Homo sapiens: one gene and its partners. The protein of the gene in region 2 interacts with the protein of the main gene of each other region in a pairwise test. Each region holds a gene or a part of one and is shown on either strand. Other genes may lie near its edges.

Region 1 (8,345 bases), on a different chromosome or scaffold from region 2:
ACATTATAAATGTATTTAAAATCATTGAACACTTAAAAATGGTTAAGAGGGTAAATTTTTTTGTTATGTGTATGTTACCACAATTTTAAATAACTGGGGGACAATCCATTAAAGGAAGATCTGGGGGAAAAAAGTCACAGTGTCTAGATTTCAGAGGACTGGAAGGCCTCCATATTTTTCAGACTTCATGCATATTATTTCCCATATTTTGGTGATAAATACTGGCTAGAAAATTTCAAGATTAGATGGCATCAAGGTGTACAGAGTAATTGCTAACCAAAAGTAGATCCATGTACTTTAACCACCAGCAGAGCAGGATGTGGAGTTGGCACCCGTGTATGAAAGTTGAAGAACCTAAAAGGATACACCTCTACACTGAAGGCCACCCTATTTCCACAGGCATGGCTAAGGATGTATCTATGCAAAGCTACTATTTTTCTCTACTAAACAATTTTAGATCTATACCATCATAGGAAAGAACAGTCATAATAATTTTAATTTTTAAAAACTGTAGGGTGGCTGCTCTAAAATGCCTCTTCAATGTTTAATTGAAAAAAGAATGTATACATATGCAATATTTTAGAGAAGGGTTAAGAAAAAAATGTATTTTTCTACAAGCTTAAAAATTTCAAAATACACAAACCACATGAACTATAAACAAAATTACTGACTAAAAACATGATTAAGTCTATGTAATACTTTCAATTGTCACTTAAATACAGTAATAAGAGTATTTTTTAAAAAGTACCTCACCTGATCTGCATGAATTAGCATCATAAATGCATTCCTTTTGCAACTTGCATCCTTCTCATTCACCAGAAAATCATGTATCAGTTCAGGAGCATCAGGTATAAGATGTTCAAAATTTCTTTAAATAAAACAGGTAACATCCATATTTAATAAAAGCCTACTTTACTATTTTAGTAACTCTCTGGACAATACCAAAATTAAATTTAATCAAACTTTACAACATACTTTTGCTTTTTTTTTTTTTTGGAGACAGAGTCTCACTCTGTTGCCTGGGCTGGAGTGCAGTGGTGCGATCTCAGCTCACTGCTGCCTCCACTTCCAGGGTTCAAGCAATTCTCCTGCCTCAGCCTCCCGAGTAGCTGCGATTATAGGTGCCCACCACTATGCCCAGCTAATTTTTTGTATTTTTAGTAGGGATGGGGTTTCACCATGTTGGCCAGGCTGGTCTTGAACTCCTGACCTCATGATTTGCCCACCTTGGCCTCCAAAGTGCTGGGATTACAGGTGTGAGCCACCGTGCCCAGACAAGGCTAGAGTGCAGTGGAGTGATCTCGGCTTACTGCAACCTCCGCCTTCTAGGTCGAGTGATTCTCCTGCCTCAGCCTCCTGAGTATCTGGGACTACAGGCACGTGCCACCATGCCAGGCTAATTTTTGTTATTTTTTTAGTAGAGACAGCATTTTGCCACGTTGGCCAGGCTTGTCTCATATTCCTGACCTCGAGTGATCCACCCACCTCGGCTTCCCAAAGTGCTGGGATTACAGACATGAACCACCACGCCCGGCCTGCTTTTTGAAACTTCAAATCAATTAGAACTGGGAGAAGGAGCCGGGCGCAGTGGCTCACACCTGTAATCCCAGCACTTTGAGAGGCCCAGGTGGGCGGATCACCTGAGGGTGGGAGTTTGAGATGAGCCTGACCAACATGGAGAAACTCCATCTCTACTAAAAATACAAAATTAGCCAGGCGTGGTAGCGCATGCCTGTAATCCTAGCTACTTGGGAGGCTGAGGCAGGAGAATTGCTTGAACCTGGGAGGTGGAGGCTGCAGTAAGCTGAGATCGTGCCATTGCACTCGAGCCTGGGCGACAAGAGTGAAACTCTGTCTCAAAAAAAAAAAAAAAAAGGAACTGGTAGAAGGAAACACAAAGTTATACCTTCATCTATTAAATTATCAAATTATACGTTTTCTAGTTCAATACAGAAAAAGCTGATTTATTCAACACACCATCTGTTAACCAATGTCTCTAATAACTGTTGTGCATACATTTTAAGCATATCAATATATTAAGAATTACATTAAGAGGAAAAACATAGTCCCTTGAATTTTATTAGTTGTGTACTATTTGCTTACTGACTTGCCTCTTCTTTTGGAAATTTAGAAATATTAGTACAGAGAAGAGTGAACACTAGCTTAATAAAATCCATCACCTTGCTTCAACAATTATAATTCATAGCTAGTTTTGTTTCATCTATATCCTTGCCAAATTTACCTCTTGCCATATTATTTTGAAGCAAATCACAGGCAATGTATCCTTTCTTCTGTAAATATATTGGTAGGTTTCTCTAAAATCAAGGACTCTTTACTTGCAAAACTAATTATTCATCATCACACCTCACAAAATTAATAATTTCCTAATATCAAGACATAGTGTTCACATTTCCAATTGTCCTATAAATGGCCTAATTTTTCTATGTGCACTATAGTTTAAATTCTGAAATTTGTGTAGTCTGTATGGTAACATTAAAGGAACTCACCCTACATTATTATTATTATTATTATTTTTATTATTATTTTTTGAGATGGAGTTTTGGTTTTGTTGCCCAGGCTAGAGTGCAATAGCGCGATCTCGGTTCATCGCAACCTCTGCCTCCCAGGTTCGAGCAATTCTTCTGCTTCAGCCTCCTGAGTAGCTAGGACTACAGGCATGTGCCACCACGCCCAGCTAATTTTGTATTTTTAGTAGAGACGGGGTTTCTCCATGTTGGTCAGGCTGGTCTCGAACTCCCGACCTCAGGTTATCGGCCCGCCTCGGCCTCCCAAAGTGCTGGGATTACAGGCATGAGCCACCACGCCTGGCTCATCTACATTATTAACCAGAATACCACTTTCCTTAATGGATAAAATCTAACAGTAAGATAACTATGAAATTATATCTTAACCAACAAATCTACTAAAGTACAAAGATGCTTATAAAAATTACATTGTAGTCCTTAATAAATTGATACCTGTGACTGTAAAAACTGAGCATTCTAGCTTCATCTAACTGGTTCCTTAAATTGGTTTAAAAATCCAAAATCTCAGCCGGGCGTGGCAGCCTGCACCTACAATCCCAGCACTTTGGGAGGCCAAGGCGAGTGGAACACTTGAGGTCAGGAGTTCGAGACCAGCCTGGCCAACATGGTGAAACCCCATATCTACTAAAAATACAAAAATTGGCTGGGCGTGGTGGTGGGTGCCTGTAATCCCAGCTACTTGGGAGGCTGAGGCAGGAGAATCACTTGAATCCGGGAGGTGGAGGTTGTTGTGAGCCGAGATCGCGCCACTGTGCTCCAGCCTGGGCAACGAGAGTGGAACTCCATCTCAAAACAAAACAAAAACAAATAAAAATTCAAAATCTTCAGCTTTCTAAGAATTGGACTCAGTTATAACTGTAGCCCTTCTCATTTAAAAAGTTCCTTCCTCAAAGCTTCTGACAGTAAAAAGACCGACATTCCACAAAACGAATTCTAAAACAAGGACCAAAGTTAAAAGCCTATAGAGGCTAAGCAAGTGAACATATAAAGTGGCTTGGAGTAATACGGTTGAGAATGACAAGCACTGTCATAAACTGTAAAGTATATAACTTATTTAAAGGGGGTTACTGTTATACAAGTTCAGCAGAATGTTGTCTTGTGGAAGCTAGGAACAGCGCTGCCAGATCTTTTGACTTTTCAATGTTCATAATAAAAAATACAGTGCTGGCCATACAAAATATATCTTCAAGCTATATTCAGTCTGCAAGCAACCACTTTGGAACCACTAGTCTAAAAGACTAAACAGTACTCACAGAATGAAGCCAAAGCAGTATCTTTATTTACCTATAGATGGTATAGATGGCCAAAACAGCATTTCTTCTAACATAGCTGTGTCGATGCTCCAAACATGCACGAATAGCTGGCATTAAAGGTTCTAGCAATTCTGCTTCTTTCAATTTGCAAAGAAAACGAAGAGTAGATCCTCGAATAAATTCATTAGGATGTTGAAGATCCTGATATAAAAATTAAAATATGAAATGCTGAGTTTCAGCTTTTTACAAAAAGAAAATTTTAATGCAAAACTTTCCAATGGAAAAAAAATACGTTTGAGAAAAAACCTAGATTACCGACAATTTCCATCATATTCTTGTTGACTGAAGCAATTTTTACCTATCTCATCAATGTCTTATATGTGTGTCACTGTTTTTTAATTAATATATACACATAAAATGCATAGAAAATGTCTGAAAAGTGACAATAAAACTTTTAAAAATAACTCTTTTACAATTCCAAATCTCTACAACTTACATCTTATCAAAGACTCAATTTTAACAATTAAAACACAGCCCATTCTACCAATTTTACATTTAAATTCAAAGCAATATTCAGAAATAATTATGATTTGGTTTACCTTTCTGTATGCATCACATACAAGGATCATCTCATGTAAAAGTCTCCCATCTGGAGTTGTTTTAGGAACAATTTCCCAAAATACCAGAAGTAATTTCTTGATAGTGTGATCCTGAAGAGGTAGCACAAAACGAATGATGGTCATCAGAAGTCCAGGAAGTTTTTCACCATTCAGAATCATAATGATTACTTTCTTCAAAGCTTCAGTCTTTGACTTTACATCTCCTTTTTCTGAATCAAAAATTTTTTTAAAAAAAAGCACAATTATTTCAAAAGAAAATTCATCACATAAATTTAAAAGCAATTAACAAAATAAAATGTACCTTCTTACTTCAGTATCAGCAATGGTAATAAAAGTACAAACCCAAGTGACAAGGTTCTCCACCTGGTTCTCCACCAAATAATCTGTCTTTGCTCAAGTCATTTATCTCTGGAAATCAGACTCTTTATATATAATATGAAGGCGCTGGATTAGATTTCTGGTTCCTAACCAATTGAGTTAATGCAGGCTCCATGAATCTACAGTCATACCAAGTAAACGTGTTTCAAAACACATATAGCTATTTTTCAAAATGTAAATACATACTATTAATTGATTTTGAATTCAAAACAGCTTTTAGCTATTTGTGTGCATTTTAACAAAGTTAAAACTACTATTATGGGAGGATAAATATGTAACTTTTTTAACATTAGAAAGAGAAACGTCATACTCAAAAAGGCTGAAAACTAAAGTAGTGGATTATTTCTAAAATCTCATCATAGTTCTGCAGGCAGGCTGTAAAACTTTAGAATCTTTCTTAAGATATCATCTGGAAAACTGGGAGGTAATTCAAATGTTCTAGATTAGTAGTCATTATTTAGAATTAAGGATGACACATTAAAGATAAAATGCTAGTTTACTGTTATTTAGCCTAAAAACTCTGCAACATAAAGTATTTTACGCAAAACTATCTAAAATTTCACACCATTATCATTGCATACTGAAGAATTTATAGTACTAAAAATCTTCTGGATCCAAAACTCAAAGGCAGAGAAGTATGTAGTAGCACACTGTACTACAACTGTTTAGATCATCAAAATAAATGAATTATCTTGGGAAGGGGAGAACAAAGAATGATTACAAGTCTTCAATAACCTTAGGGCCATTATGAGGAAAAGAACTACAACTAATGGGTAGTAGTTACCGGGAACCAGATTTGGGCCTAAATATGAGAAATACATTTCTAATGATTAGAGCTAAGCGGCTATGAAACAGAGTTCTGAGCGTCAGATGCGGTGGTTCATCTGGCCCACAGAACTCTTCATTTAATAGCCACTTAAAATTTTTGTATTTTTACTAGAGATGGGGTTTCGCCATGTTGGCCACGCTGGTCTCGAACTCCTGAAGTCAAGTGATCCACCTGCCTCAGCTTCCCAAAGTGCTGGGATTACAGGCATGAGCCACCATGCCCAGTCTCAACTCTTCTTAATGGCAAAAATATACATTAAACTGGAGAGTATGTATTTATTTATTGGTTGGAGGAAGGTAGCTAAGGCAGCTTCAATTAAGACTAGGGCATTGTTCCAACTAAGGGCAGATTTTATTCTTTACCTTCCTAGCTATAACCTTAGGTATCCTGAGGATCTAACAATGAAAATTTTTAAATTATGAGGAAAAACACTAATGAATGTATTCACTATTTTGCATTCAACTATCCTACATGAACATGAAAAAAGGGAAATATATGTGGCTTATGTATATAATGGTATCATTTTAAATATCATAAAACTGGGTTTCTTTTCCCTTCTCTAAAAATAGACCTCAATAGAAACCTAGTATTAAGTAACCTAGAATCAGGAGGTATTCCATTACTGCTGATTAAGAAGTGGGAATAGGCAAGTAAAATATTAAGTTTCTTTTCAAACTGCAAACTATCTTCTAAAAGATCCTTTCTATATTTGAAGCATAATTTTCACTCTGCTCTGTTTAAACAATATTTATCAGTTTAAGTTGTATTTATTTTTAGCAGTTCAATTAAACAAGAATCATTACTTTGGAAAGCATATTAATTATAAATTTTTTTTTTCTTGACAGAATCACTCACAAAAAGGAGACACGGTATACATTTTTAAAATTCAGAAATATGATAAATTTAGTAAAGTTCCAGGACACAAAATCAACATACAAAAATCAGTAGCATTTCTATATGACAACAGTGAACAATCTGAAAAAGAAATTGAAGAAGTAATCTAATCCCATTTACAATACCCACAGATAAAATTAGATACCTAGGAATTAATTTAACCAAATAAATGAAAGATTTCTACAATGAAAACTATAAATACTGATGAAAGAAATTGAAGAGAACATCAACAAATGGAAAGATATTCCATGATCATGGATTAGAAGAATCAGTATTGTTAAAATGTCCATACCACCCAAAGCAATCTAGAGTCAATGCAATTCCCATCAAAATACCAATGACATTCTTCACAGAAAAAAAAAAAAAATCCTAAAATTTATATGGAACCACAAAAGACCCAGAATAGCCAAAGCTATCCTAAGCAAAAAGAACAAAACTGAAGGAATCACATTACTTGACATCAAATTATCCTACATAGCTACAGTAACCAAAACAGCATGGTACTGGCATAAAAACAGACATAAAGACCCATGGAAAATAACAGAACCAAGAAACAAATCCATACACCTACAGTGAACTCATTTTGACAAAGGTGCCAAGAACATACATTGGAGAAAAGACAGTCCCTTCAATAAATGGTGCTTGGAAAACTATGTGCAGAAGAATGAAACTTGTCCCCCATCTCTCAACTTACACAAAAATAAAATCAAAATGGATTAAAGGCTTAAATCTAAGACTTTAAACTATGAAACTACTACAAGAAAATATTGGGAAAAATCTCCAGGACGCTGGTCTGGCCAAAAATTTCTTGAATAATACCCCACAGGCACAGGCAACCAAAGCAAAAACGGACAAATGGGATCACATCAAGTTAAAAAGCTTCCGCACAGCAAAGGAAACAATCGACATACGTGATGAGACAACCCACAGAATGGGAGAAAATATGTGCTAACTACCTATCTCACAAGGGATTAATAACCAGATATGTAAGGAGCTCAAACAACTCTACAGGAAAAAAAAAAACTCATAATCTGATTTAAAAATGGGCAAAAGATTTGAACAGACATTTCACAAAGACATACAATTGGCAAACAGGCATATGAAAAGGTGCTCAACATCACTGATCATCAGAGAAATGCATATCAAAACTACAATGAGATATCATCTCACCCCAGTTAAAATGGCTTTTATCCAAAAGACAAGCAAAAACAAATGCTGGAGAGGATGTGGAGAAAAGGGAACCCTCGTACACTGTTGGTGGGAATGTAAACTAGTATACCCACTATGGAGAACAGTTTGGAGGGTCCTCAAAAAACTAAAAACAGGGGTACCATACGATTCAGCAATCCGACTACTGGGTATATATCCAAAAGAAAGGAAATGAGTACATCAAAGAGATATCTGGACTCCTATGTTTGTTGCAGCACTGTTTACAACAGTCAAAACTTGAAAGCAACCTAAGTGTCCACCAACAGATAAATGTATAAAGAAAATGTGGTACATATACACAATGGAGTACTATTCAGCCATAAAAAAAGAATGAGATCTTGTCATTTGCAAAAATATGGATGGAACTGGAGGTCATTATGTTACATGAAATAAGTCAGGCATAGAAAGACAAACTTCACATGTTCTCACTTATTTGTGGAAGCTAAAAATCAAAACAAACTCACGGAGACAGAGTAAAAGGATGGTTATCAGAGGTGGGAAGGGTAGTGGTAGGGAAGTGGAGATGGTTAATGGGTACAGAAAAAATGAGTTAGACCCGATATTTGATAGCACACAGGGTAACTACAGTCAATAATAATTTAATTGGACATTTAAA
Region 2 (9,692 bases):
ATCTGATGAGGGATGTTCAAGGGACAATTCAATATCAAACCCACATGGGGAAAATAGCCATAGAGATGATTTATTAACTTGAAATCTCATACGTACATAAACATTTGCTCATATTCAAAATACACTCTGAGCTGAGGATAAATCGTGAGTTGGAAGGAGTCCGCCACAGCCTCCATCTCTCTTAGCAGACTTCGTCCAGCTCTGCCCCATCAGGCCTCTCCTCTCCCCTGATTCTCTGGCCAGAAGATCTCTATTATGAACTTGGTGCCGGAAGCAGGGACAAGTGAAGAGTAGCTCTGAGGGAGCAGAAAGAGTCCCTCTCTCCCCATGACATTTGGGGTGCTCTAGAAAAGTCCCCATCATGGGGATCAGGTTTGGATAAACACAAGTTTGCCTCCTGGAAAGCGGACTGTTAGCAAAAGCTTTTCTATGATTCACTTTGGTTCTCTGCATCAAGAACTGTGGGCCTTACTTAGGGAGTTCAAAGGACATGCTGTGTCCTTTTCCATTTTGTAAACATTGATTGGTTTTTCTCTCACAGGAGTTGGGCAGCAGGGTGGGCAATGGTGAGGCACTATCCGCAACGCCCTCGGCATGTGTCCAGTCTTGCTTTGGGAAGTGTCTAGAGGCTGGACGAGCAAATCCCAACCAGTCAAGGGTGGGAGACTTGAGACGGAGGAAAGGCAGATTCCTTTGTGCCAGATCCTTTCTCTTGGGATAGTCTGCAACAGCTTTGAGGCTCTGTAACAACCTTTCATTCATATGTATGTATATATTTCAAAGTAAATTTAAATAGATTAAAATGTTAACATGTACTATTCAATTAATAATGAAGACATTAGATTATATACAAATTTACATCCTATTGCCCTTGCACCAACACCAACAAAATGTCCATTAAGTTAGAAAAAGGCAACTGGTGATGAGTTTTGCATGTGAAAAATGTATTGGTTGATATTCTGCTGAAAGCCCATCTCTGCTTTTCCAAATTGGCCATTCATGGAGAGGCAAAGAAGCAATAAAACTCCACTCTGTGGCTGTGACCCCCAAAAAGCCTTTAGTTTAGACTCTGTTTACGATTCTTCTAAAGGCAAACAAGCTTCTTCAAGAAACTGTGATCCTTTTCTTGATCCTCTGGCATCCTCTCACTCCAGAGTTTTAAGGACACTGGAGTCTGGAATGGGTGACTGTGGGCATGGGAGTAGTCTATGGGAGTCAAGTACACTTAAGCTAGTCATGACACAGGGGGCAAGGAAAAGAAAGTTCTGGCAACCTAACTTTAACTGAAAAAATGGCTGAGGGCTCTTAGTTTGCCATCCACCCATTTCTGCCATACCACAGAAAGCTCCACACTCCAAAGGCTTTTTGATATGGGATGAAACCGATTTGGTTACTCTCAGAGGTGAACTTTATAAAGAAATTTTAATCTGTAATGATTTTCCAACTTTTTAAGGGAATGATTATAACTAGTTAGTCTTGACTTTATATTTATTTCAGAAGAAAAATATAATATTAGTGGGCTCCATTCTTTTCTACTCCAAAGAATAAAAAACCCCAAGTGAAAGAAGGCTGGGTGGAGGTGACAGCGCCAGTCTCAGCCTGAAGAGACATGAGCTTTGGATCTATCTGGATAAGGAGGCTGCTCAACAAGGCTTTTCTAGATTGAAATAATCTAGTTTTAATTAAAAGAGTAATTCAGGGAAGCCACGCAGACTCGCTGCATGCAGGCTGCCCTGGGTGGTATGACTTTGTCTACCAACACTGACTAAGTCTTACTCCCAGTTTAGTTGGGGTTGGTAAAAAGGAGAGAAAAAAAGCCACACCCTCCAGATCAAATAAAATTCCCAAGTAATACACATCTGGGAACACACCCTCCCCTTGCTTTCAATGACTGGAGAGTTTTGAACTCTGGCTAAACCAGGATCATCATCCCCATTAGCTTGAGAGGCTACTAGGGACCACTGCAAGCTGAAGGACCCATCTCAAGAGCTCTGTGGGAGAAAAGACAGCAGACAGGATGAGGTCTGCACTGCATAACTTCCATAGGCTTTCTCTGGGTCAAAACGAGGCCAGTGAGAAAAAGTAGGGAGACCCTGCTTGGGTGGTGGAACATACTCTGGCAAGTAGAGATGGTTCTTTGGGGCCACGAGCAGAGCACCTGTGAGGCCTGGTCAGCTTGTATCCTTTAATCCTCGTGGAGGAAAAGGGAGGGCCAGAGGAAGCCCATCAGCTTTGCAGCAGCTTGCATCACTCTCTCTCTAGTGGCATTTTCCGTAGACATAACCATGGAAAGTTCACAGGAGCACGTGTGATGGGGGGTGGGGGGGTGGGGTGAATAAGCTGAACACTTGGGTAAATAAAAATACCTAGGGATTGTTCTTATTCATTCTGGGATATTGGAGGGGTGGTCACCCAAACATTGGTAGAAGAGTGCTTCAGGCTTGTGCCTCCACTGAATTTCCCCAGGACTAATCACTCCCTGATGTGATTTAGTGCTGCTTGCTCCCAAGGATTGGCTGGGTCTCACCCTCCAGCCCATTGAGCTCTTTGGTTATGGGATGGGCAGCTGCCAGGCTGATGGCTACTGAGACTGACTCACAATTGGCTCTCGTGTTGTTTGTGATGGCAGGGGCACCAACTCCAACTTCAGAATTAAAGGACCACTTACAGAAATGTAGTAGTGAGAGAACAGGATGAGAAAGATGAGAGAGTCTGCCTTTCTGAAACTGCTTATGTTTCAAAGGGGTTACTTTTAAATCAGAGGGATTTTTCAGTGGAAAGGTTTTTCTTGTATATAAAAGTGAGTCAGCATTTTCTAGCAGAAGTTTGAGAAGGAAACACTCTTGAAATGAGGCTGAATATGCAATGGTTTCCACCACGCAGAAAGTATCCTATGTTAATTTTCTAATCTGTTTAGCATATAAAAGATACCATCTTCCATTCCTACCCCCTTAGTGTGTTATCGAATGCCTGGTCTGATTGAAAATAACCTGGGTTGTTAGAATGATTTCTATATTCAATACGTAACAGGATGCTAGTGAGACAAGTCCCCGTGAAAGGAGAGACACAATTACTTTGCAATGAAATAATTTAAAATCCTAGATCAGTATGTGAGGAAACCCACAAATTTCCTAAGAAAATTTTGCAATATGTCAAATGAAAAATATATCTTCCAGAATCTGATTCTCCTCCAACTCTTCAGGGGTTCTGTGCATCCCCATCTTCTTCCGGGTTGATTTTAGAGGACTGAGTCGGAAAGTACCATGATTCCAGGCCCCAGCTTCTCTGGAGGGATAGCGCTGAGGTTTGGGCGCAGAGTTTGGGCTCAGAGACTGAACCAAATCCAACAAAGATGTCTCATACCTGTAAGACATATAACCCAGACAGGAAAGGATCAGATTATTAGAAAATGAGAATTCAAGAAGCCCAGCAGAAATGGGCTGTCCAGGGCAAGAATTAGATTACAGATCACATCATGCATAAGATGATGCTTAAGGGAATTTTTGTGAAGGTAAACACCAGAAGGACTTGAAGAACCTAGGCCCTGCTGCCTGTACATAAGCTCTTCTCTTTTGCTGACCCCTAACATTCCTTTATAACTTATGAAGAGAGATTGTAGAGTGGGAAGAGTAATCATGATAACAGTAATGATATTAACAGTGACATTTACTGCAGGCTTACTGTCAGGCACTGTTCCTAACACTACAAATATTTAACCTTCCTATAATCCTCTAATGAACCCTAGGAAGTAGGTACTATACTACTCTCATCTCCATTATAAACATGCGGAAATTAAAGCTCAGGGAAGTAACTCATCTAACAGAAAGCAATTACACAGCAGAGTCTAGAATTGAACCCAGGTGGTTTGTCTCCAGCACTCTCATCCAGGACACTAAAGCTGTCTGTCGAAATCTTCACAGACAGACACGCTTGGTTCAAATCTCTGTTCTACCATTTGCAAGCTGTGTAATATTGGGGAAGTTATTCAGTGTCTCAGTTCAGTCTTTTCATGTGTAAGAGGCTAGCAAAACTCCAGTTAGGATTAAATGAATTCATTGATATAAATGAATACATAATAGGCACTGAATAAATGTTAGTTCCTTCCTGTTAACCCCCTTCCACTTTTTCTAGAAGTTTGGGAAAAGATTCTAAATCTATAAAGACATCCCTCCAAAGAAAGACTGCCTTGTGTCCAGCATTCTTTTCAGAAAGGGTAAGTGCAGAGCAGCTTAGAGGTAAAAAAACATTCTGGGGGCCGGGTGAGGTGGTTCATGCCTGTAATCCCAGCACTTTGGGAGGCCGAGGTGGGTGGATCACTTGAGGTCAGGAGTTCAAGACCAGCCTGGACAACATGGTGAAACTCTGTCTCTACTAAAAATACAAAAATTAGGCGGGCATGGTGGCATGTGCCTGTAGCCCCAGCTACTCAGGAGGCTGAGGCAGGAGAATCGCTTGAACCTGGAAAGTGGAGGCTGCAGTGAGCTGAGATCGTGCCACTGCACTCCAGCCTGGGCAATAGAGCAAACAAACAAACAAAAAACCAACCAACCAACCAACCAAACAAACAAAAACAGTTTGGAGTACCACATAGGGCCCTAAGGGGATAGCTGGGGCCAGAACCTAGCTCCAAATTAATGGTGGTGACAATGGCAGAAGCAGCAGTGGTGAGAGGCTGGGTTGTCTGTTTCCCAAGCCCATCCCTGTGGCAAAAATGTCATCTTTCTGGCCTGAGAACTGGGATAGGAACTGCTAGCATTAAGTATAAATGCCAGTAAATTATTAGAAAATAAAAACATACACGTGGACATTACAATGAAGCATATCAGAGATATATTAGAAGCCTTCAAAGAGTTTAGAATCTCTGGTTTTAAAAACTGCTACAACACTGGAAAGCGAACATCCACAGGTTTGGAAATAAAAATTAAAGATTGTTGCATTTGATAGGAAAAAACCCACTATTCTCATATGCAATTTCTAATGAACCAATTATTAATGAGGAATACAATTTTTAAATTTAATTTTTCTTTGTAACTGAAGATGCTGCTATAGAAAGCATAAACAAGCACTGTGAATTATAGACAAATCATTAAGTGATTTTTGGTTTCTTATATGATCTTTATATGTTACAGAACATGCTAGAGAAAACATTAAAATGACATCATAGAGATTTGTATTTAAAATTAAATTCCAACATGTATGAAACTAATGTGTATGAAGAGTTAAATCTTTTTAGAAAATCTGATCCCCAAGAATAATCACCTCTATATAAACTAAAATTCATATTTGGAAATACTTTATTAGAAATCTATGCAAATGTTGGCACAGCCTACAAAATACTCTTAGCAGCTCCACTGTCAGTTGCATCAACAGAAAGATCCTCCTCAAAATTAAAAATTAGAAAAAATTGGGGGATACAGTTCCAAGATGGCTGAATAGGAACAGCACCAGTCTGCAGCTCCCAGTGTGATCGACAAAGAAGATGGGTGATTTCTGCATTTCCAGCTGAGGTACCTGGTTCATCTCATTGGGACTGGATGGACAGTGGGTGCAGCCCACAGAGGGCAAGCCGAAGCAAGGTGGGGCATCACCTCACCCAGGAAGCGCAAGGGGTCGGGGGACTTCCCTTTCCTAGCCAAGGGAAGCCATGACAGGCAGTACCTGGAAAATAGGGACACTGCCACCCAAACACTGCGCTTTTCCAACAGTCTTAGCAAATGGCACACCAGAAGATTATAAACCACACCTGGCTCAGTAGGTCCCATGCCCACGGAGGCTTGCTCACTGTTAGTGCAGCAGTCTGAGATCGACCCGCGAGACAGCAGCCTGGCAGGGGTAGGGGCATCTGCCATTGCTGAGGCTTCAGTAGGTAAACAAAGCAGCCAGGAGGCTCAAACTGGGTGGAGCCCACCGCAGGTCAACGAGGCCTGCCTGCCTCTGTAGACTCCACCTCTGGGGGAAGGGCAGAGCTGAACAGAAGGCAGCAGGAACTTCTGCAGACTTAAACATCCCTGACAGCTCTGAAGAGAGCAGTGGTTTTCCCAGCATGGTGTTTGACCTCTGAGAACGGACAGACTGCCTCAAGTGGGTCCCTGACCCCTGTGTAGCCTAACTGGGAGACACCTCCCAGTAGGGGCCGACTGACACCTCATACAGCTGGGTGCCCCTTGAGATGAAGCTTCCAGAGGAAGGATCAGGCAGCAATATTGCAGTTCTGCAATATTTGCGGTTCTGCAGCCATCTGCTGGTGACACCCAGGCAAACAGGGTCTGGAGTGGACCTCCAGCAAACTCTAACAGACCTGCAGCTGAGACACCTGACTGTTAGAAGGAAAACTAACAAACAGAAAGGAATAGCATCAACATCAACAAAAAGGACATCAACACCAAAACCCCATCTGTAGGTCACCATCATCAGAGATCAAAGGTAGATAAAACCACAAAGATGGGGAGAAACCAGAGCAGAAAAGCTGACAATTCTAAAAACCAGAGTGCCTCTTCTCCAAAGGATCACAGCTCCTCGCCAGCAATGGAACAAAGCTGGACAGAGAATAACTTTGACAAGTTGACAGAAGTAGGCTTCAGAAGGTTGGAAATAACAAAATTCTCCAAGCTAAAGGAGGATGTATGAACCCATCTCAAGGAAGCTAAAAACCTTGAAAAAAGATTAGACGAATGGCTAACTAGAATAAACAGTGTAGAGAAGACCTTAAATGACCTGATGGAGCTGAAAACCATGGCAGGAGAACTACGTGACGCATGCATAAGCTTCAGAAGCTGATTCCATCGAGTGGAAGAAAGGGTATCAGTGACTGAAGATCAAATGAATGTGTAACGCCTAACCTTGTTTTTTACTCTAGCTCACTACTTTAAATTTTCCTTTTTTTGTCTCCTTAATTGCCAGCCATGTTTCCCATATGAATACACTCTCCCTGGCTGGGAAAGCCGGACAAACTCCATTTGACCTCTTGATTTACAAGACATTAAGGGCTCCTTACCCAACCCCCTTCCTTAAGGAGTTAACCTGTGTAAGCAGATCCTCAGCATTTCAAAGGAGCCCAATTAACTGGTAAGATACTGGAGCAAACAATGTATGAAGTTCCCAGGGTTTTGCTCAAAGAGATAACAACACAAAGCCTTGAGTTCCTGTCTGGCATAGCATTTATATCTAACTATAATGAAGGATTTAGAGCCTTGCACCTGGTACCCTTGCTCTTTTTGTAACCATTTGTCTTTTAAATTGTTCATTTCTCTGTAACCATTTGCTTCTTTTGATTCTTGCATGTTTTTACTTCTGTAGAGTTATTGCATTTAAGTCCCCCTCCCCTTCCTAAACCTAGGTATAAAAGTTAAGCCCCTTCATCGGGGCCAAGAGAATTTTGAGCATTAGCCATCTCTTTGGCCGCCGGCTTAAATAAAGGACTCTTAATTTGTCTCAAAGTGTGGCATTTTCTCTAACTCCTGTGGCTATAACAAATGAAATGAAGCAAGAAGTTTAGAGAAAAAAGAGTAAAAAGAAACGAACAAAGCCTCCAAGAAATATGAGACTATGTGAAAAGACCAAATCTACGTTTGATTGGTGTACCTGAAAGTGACAGGGAGAATGGAACCAAGCTGGAAAACACTCTTCAGGATATTATGCAGGTGAATTTCCCCAATCTAGCAAGGCAGGCCAACATTCAAATTCAGGAAATACAGAGAACACCACAAAGATACTCCTTGAGAAGAGCAACCCCAAGACACATAATTGTCAGATTCACCAAGGTTGAAATGAAGCAAAAAATGTTAAGGGCAGCCAGAGAGAAAGGTCAGGTTACCCACAAAGGGAAGCCCATTGGACTAACAGCTGATCTCTCGGCAGAAACTCTACAAGCCAGAAGAGAGTGGGGGCCAATATTCAACATTCTTAAAGAAAAGAATTTTCAACCCAGAATTTCATATCCAGCCAAACTAAGCTTCATTAGTAAAGGCAAAATAAAATCCTTTATAGATAAGCAAATGCTGAGAGATTTTGTCACCACCAGGCCTGCCTTACAAGAGCTCCTGAAGGAAGCACTAAACATGGAAAGGAACAACCGGTACCAGCCACCGCAAAAACATGCCAAATTGTAAAGACCATCGATGCTAGGAGGAAACTGCATCAACTACGAGCAAAATAACCAGCTAACATCATAATGACAGGATTGAATTCACACATAACAATATTAACCTTAAATGTAAATGGGCTAAATGCCCCAATTAAAAGACACAGACTGGCAAATTGGATAAAGAATCAAGACCCATCAGTGTGCTGTATTCAGGAGACTCATCTCACGTGCAGAGACACACACAGGCTCAAAATAAAGGGATGGAGGAAGATCTACCAAGCAAATGGAAAGCAAAAAAAAAACAAACAAAAAAAAAACAAAAAAAAAGCAGGGGTTGCAATCCTAGTCTCTGATAAAACAGACTTTAAACCAACAAAGACAAAAAAAAAAAAAAAAAGAGACAAAGAAGGCAATCAAAGAATGGTAAAGGGATCAATTCAACAGGAAGAGCTAACTATCCTAAATATATATGCACCCAATACAGGAGCACCCAGATTCATAAAGCAAGTCCTCAGAGAGTACAAGGAGACATAGACTCCCACAAAATAATAATGGGAGATTTTAACACCCCACTGTCAATATTAGATAGATCAACGAGACAGCAGGTTAACAAGGATATCCAGGACTTTAACTCAGCTATGCACCAAGCGGACCTAACAGATGTCTACATAACTCTCCACCCCAAATCAACAGAATATACACTCTTCTCAGCACCGCATCACATTTATTCCAAAACTGACCACATAGTTAGAAGTAAAGCACTCCTCAGCAAATGTAAAAGAGCAGAAATCACAACCACGGTGCAATCAAATTCAAACTCAGGGTTAAGAAACTCACTCAAAACTGCACAGCTACATGGAAACTGAACAACCTGCTCCTGAATGACTACTGAGTAAATAACAAAATGAAGGCAGAAAGAAAGATGTTCTTTGAAACCAACGAGAACAAAGACATGACGTACCAGAATATCTGGGACATATTTAAAGCAGTGTGTAGAGGGAAATTTATAGCACTAACTGCCCACAAGAGAAAGCAGGAAAGATCTAAAATCAACACCCTAACATCACAATTAAAAGAACTAGAAAAGCAAGAGCAAACAAATTCAAAACCTAGCAGAAAGCAAGAAACAACTAAGATCAGAGGACAACTGAAGGAGATAGAGACACAAAAAACCTTCAAAAAATCAATGAATCCAGGAGCTGGTTTTTTGAAAAGAAACAAAATTGATAGACCAATAGCAAGATTAATAAGGAAGAAAAGGGAGAAGAGTCAAAGAGATGCGATAAAAAATGATAAAGGGGATATCACCACCGATTCCACAGAAGTACAAACTACCATCAGAGAATACTATAAACACTTCTAAGCAAATACACTAGAAAATCTACAAGAAATGGATAAATTCCTCGACACATACACCCTCCCAAGACTAAACCAGGAAGAAGTTGAATCCCTGAATAGACCAATAACAGGCTCAGAAATTGAGGCAATAATTAATAGCCTACCAACCAAAAAAAGTCCAGGACCAGAAGGATTCACAGCCGAATTCTATCAGAGGTACAAAGAGGAGCTGGTACCATTCCTTCTGAAACTATTCCAATCAATAGAAAAA
Region 3 (3,860 bases), on a different chromosome or scaffold from region 2:
AAGTTTCTTTGAGGACATTAAAGTGGTGGATTCACCCTGGATGACCTTGGCCTGGTCTCTGCTGGGGAAGATGTGACCTTGGGCCCCTGGACAGAGTCCGGAGGGAGTCAGGGGGGATCCTTAACCCCAACACATACACAGCCGGTCAACCTGGGCCACCCAGGCATAGAAGGCTCATGGAGGATGCCCAGGGCTCTGTGGACTCCAGAAGGAGCCACACTTCGGTCCTGGCTTTATGAGCTGTGGCCCAGCCAAGCAGGAGACTAGGGTTTGAGTGACACAGTATCCCACTTATTCATGAGGACAAGCATCATAGACCTGGTGGGAGAACCTCTCTCCCTATCATCTCCCTGCCAAGAAATGGAGCATGAGGAGGAGCCCAGGGGCCCGAGCCTGCAGTGCCCACGTGACCACGGGAAACTCACTCTGGGCCAGCGCAGGTAAGGAGCTCCAGTCCCAGACCAGCAACCTTGCAGCTGAGATGAGGGATGGACAGCAGCTCTGGGAACCAGCTTTATTTTTCTCAGGAGCCTCTCACTGGGAACCAGACAACCCCAGAGGGCATCTTTGCCTGCCCTTGGTGACAGTGTACTCCAATCTCGTCATTCATTAATGTGATGGCCAGTCACTGAGCACCTGGCAGATACTGGTTTTCCATCTTCTCACACTCAGCTCTGCCCAAGGTGGGATTTTTGTCTTTCAAGGCAGGAGCCATCGTCCCACCCAGGATGAGCCATCCTCTTCTGGGCTAGGTTAGAGTTGCCTGTTATGCCAAAGAATGGAGCTGGGCTGGAGGGAGGGGCAGGTGGTGATGGGGGAAGAGAAGCAGGGTCTCAGCCCAACCTCAGTACCAGGTCAGCTGGGGTGCCCTGTTTCATCTTGCTGGGCCGGCTCACTTTGGAGCTGGCGGATTTGTCAGGTTGGAAATTGCTTTCTTCATCTAGAACAGAGAAAGGGGGTGGAGGTGGGGGGGGATGTAGAGGAGGTTGTGAGGGGGGCTCCAGCATTTTTAGTCCCCTAAGGTTCATTTCCAGGCTGAATAGTAGAGCCTGTGCCACCCCATTGCACAGATGGGATCACTGAGGCCGAGAAGGGCAGGCTGGCCACTGGCCAGAAAACAAGGTAGGGGAGCCAGGCCCAGTGGCCAATCTGGGCCAGAAAGAGGGACTCATAAGTATCCTCTGAATCCCCCCAGGTTTGGATGGGAGCATGCTGGTGTCCCCCCACCTCCCCATCTCCCCAGCCTTCTCAGGCATGGGTCCCCTGCTTTGCTCTGCCCCCGGGACCCTGGTACCTCCACCCAGGACACGCAGCCCACAGCTCTGCCCCGCGATGTCACGAAGAGGGACTGAAGGTTCAACAGCTTAAAGAGGTTTTGTGCCTGGATGGGGGATTGTTAGGAAACACTGGAGGGTAGATGGCGCCCAGCCCACCCTCTGGCCCACTCTGCCACGCCTCTGAGCCAGGAAGAGGGGCGGGGCCTGATATGTGTGGGAGGCAACAGACCCAGGCCTGCAATGTCCAGTGTGGGCCACTGGGGGATGCCAGAGGCCACTCAAGGGTCTGGGCGGGGCTGCAAGTGGACAGGACCCAACATCCAGCACCCTCCAGCAGCACAGAGGGGGCGGGGCCATCTCCAGGTCCCCTGTCAGCCTCCGCCCTTGCCCCATCCTTGTGTCAGGCTCTGTCTCAACTGGCTACATAATTTGTCCAAGATCACACAGGCAAAATGGGGTGGACCTGAAATTGAAACGCACGTGTGCCTTGGTGCAACTCCACTGTCTTTCTCCACCCAGAGACTTCCATTTGCCAAGCCCCCCAATTCCCTCATCTCTCTGCATCATCCCCGCAACCCTGGCAGTGAGGGGCGACGGCAGGAGCTGCCCTGTCCAGGCCCAGGAGGAGCAGGAAGCAGGATAAGATGGGCGGGGCGGGGTTGGGACGGGAGGCTGGAGCCTGAGCTCCTCATCAGCTCTTGCCCTGCCCCGGGGGCTGCGTGTGTCACACTCCCCAATACTTGTTACCTGGTGCAAGGTGGTCTCTGAGAATAGCGTCAGGGTCACTGGTTCCGTGGGGCAGCCCCTGGCCAAGATGTCCTGGAGACACTGCTGGGAGTGGGGAAGAGTTATGGGTGCAGGGCCGGCCTCCCCAGGATGCCTCTCTCAGACCACCTCTCCCTCAGGAGATCAGCGGGTCCCTCCCCTCCCATCCCTGCTGACCCACCCCCGCCCCATCCCCACGCCCCTCAGGAGTAACCACCTGGTGTCCTGGAGCCCTGGAAGGAGGCTCAGCCTGGAGGGCCTGCACCAGCTGGGCCCTCTGCACGATGCCTACCAGGATCTGGGACTCTGGCAAGTAGAGAGGGAGAGGGAGGGAGGTGCATTATGAAGAAACAGGCCTGAGGGCCAAGCTTCCGGAAGACCTTGGTGGTGTCCCCATGCTCCTACCCCAGCAGCTGCCCAGGGACTGCCTTACAAGCACCCAGCCGACTCTCTTTAGACATGTCAACCACCCCAAGGGAGGGTAGCCATGATTTCCATTTTGCTGATGAGGAAACTGAGGCTCAGGTGAAGTGACTTGCTCAAGGTCACACGGTTGGTTGCTAAGTCACAGAGCCTGGATGCAGATCCTGTCTGCCTGACAGGTTCAAGAAGGAGGCAGAGGGCATCCCCTACCCCCGACTTCCTCCTCCCTTCCAGCTGGGCACCTGTGCTCTCCACCAGGGGATACTCGGTCACGTCTGTGGAGGTCACAACCTTGACCACCTCCTCCAGCGGCGTGTCCTTGGCCAGTGTGGTGATGCTGTGGTTCATGAAGTGCTCCACCCTCACATGGTGGGAGCTGCAGGCAGAGGGGCTCCCATCAGGTCCCGGAGTCGGGGATGTCAGACCCAGGCCAGCAAGGGGATCTGAGGGGAGCTTTGCTTGAACCAGGGACCCACGGCTCTGGAGTGTGAGCAGGGCTGGAGAGGTTCCTGGAATGAGGGACTCCTAGAACCCACAGTGGGAGGAAACCTGGGGACCACATTACTGATGGCCCAGTTCCAAATCCCCAACCCCCTGGTCCCCCATGTCCCCCAGACCAGCTTCACTTGGGTCTTGTCCCACCTTGGACAGAGCTGAGTGTGAGATGACGGAAAACCAGTATCTGCCAGGTGGTCAGTGACTGGCCATCCATTAATGAATAATGAGATTGGAGTACAGACCCAGCAGCCTTCCCTGGATAATTCCATTTGATTATAAAAGTGTATGTCACCCCCAAGGAAAAACTTGGAAGGTTGAAAATCACTGGTATAAACAGCCCCATTTTCCCGATGGGGAAACAGGTTCAGAGCAAGGCAGCAGCTTGTTTGTGTTTGGAGCGGGGCCTCCGATTCGGACTCTCAGAGCCTCTTTGGTCTGCTTTTCTGGCGCCAGAAGCTGCTCTGGTCCTATCTGGTTGAGTGAGGACTTCAAAGCCCATTTCCATTCTCGTTCCACCTCCTGCTCCCAAAGTCCCAGCAAGGACAGCAGGAGTGGGGAGAGGGGAGGAGACCTCTCGGATCTGGTGCTGACTCTCTGTGTCACCTGGAGCAAGACACGGCACCTCTCTGAGCTCTGGTTTCCTCAATCTGTACACGGGGCAATACTCATCCTCCTGCTGTGAAGCCCAGCTGACCCCTAGACAGACACTGAGGCCTCAAGGCCAAGGACTTGCCCAAGGTCACCCAGGGCACTGGGGAGAGTGGAGATGAGAGCACAGCTGTGTGTCAGCCCCTCCCAGCCCCCATGTCGGAGGTCAGCTGCGGTGGTGTTTCTTTTTGGAGGTGCCCTCCACCCCCAGCCAAGCCCAAACACTGTGACCCCCTTCAGTCAGCCTGA

The links.
Region 1: the proteins of KIAA1328 (region 2) and COPB1 interact in binary tests that used the Homo sapiens proteins (3 or more experiments, as listed by UniProt).
Region 3: the proteins of KIAA1328 (region 2) and CLCNKA interact in binary tests that used the Homo sapiens proteins (3 or more experiments, as listed by UniProt).

The regions. Positions count from the first base shown.
Region 1 is NC_000011.10:14,489,812-14,498,156, forward strand, and holds part of COPB1 (coatomer subunit beta), read right to left. Parts: intron 4,629-8,345; coding exon 4,399-4,628; intron 4,001-4,398; coding exon 3,831-4,000; intron 869-3,830; coding exon 754-868; intron 1-753. UniProt on the Homo sapiens protein: The coatomer is a cytosolic protein complex that binds to dilysine motifs and reversibly associates with Golgi non-clathrin-coated vesicles, which further mediate biosynthetic protein transport from the ER, via the Golgi up to the trans Golgi network.
Region 2 is NC_000018.10:37,215,688-37,225,379, reverse strand, and holds the end of KIAA1328 (protein hinderin), read right to left. Parts: intron 3,364-9,692; coding exon 3,153-3,363; 3' UTR 46-3,152; downstream 1-45. UniProt on the Homo sapiens protein: Competes with SMC1 for binding to SMC3. May affect the availability of SMC3 to engage in the formation of multimeric protein complexes.
Region 3 is NC_000001.11:16,030,691-16,034,550, reverse strand, and holds the end of CLCNKA (chloride channel protein ClC-Ka), read right to left. Parts: intron 2,842-3,860; coding exon 2,708-2,841; intron 2,349-2,707; coding exon 2,260-2,348; intron 2,109-2,259; coding exon 2,025-2,108; intron 1,382-2,024; coding exon 1,295-1,381; intron 941-1,294; coding exon 893-940; 3' UTR 501-892; downstream 1-500. UniProt on the Homo sapiens protein: Anion-selective channel permeable to small monovalent anions with ion selectivity for chloride > bromide > nitrate > iodide. Forms a homodimeric channel where each subunit has its own ion conduction pathway.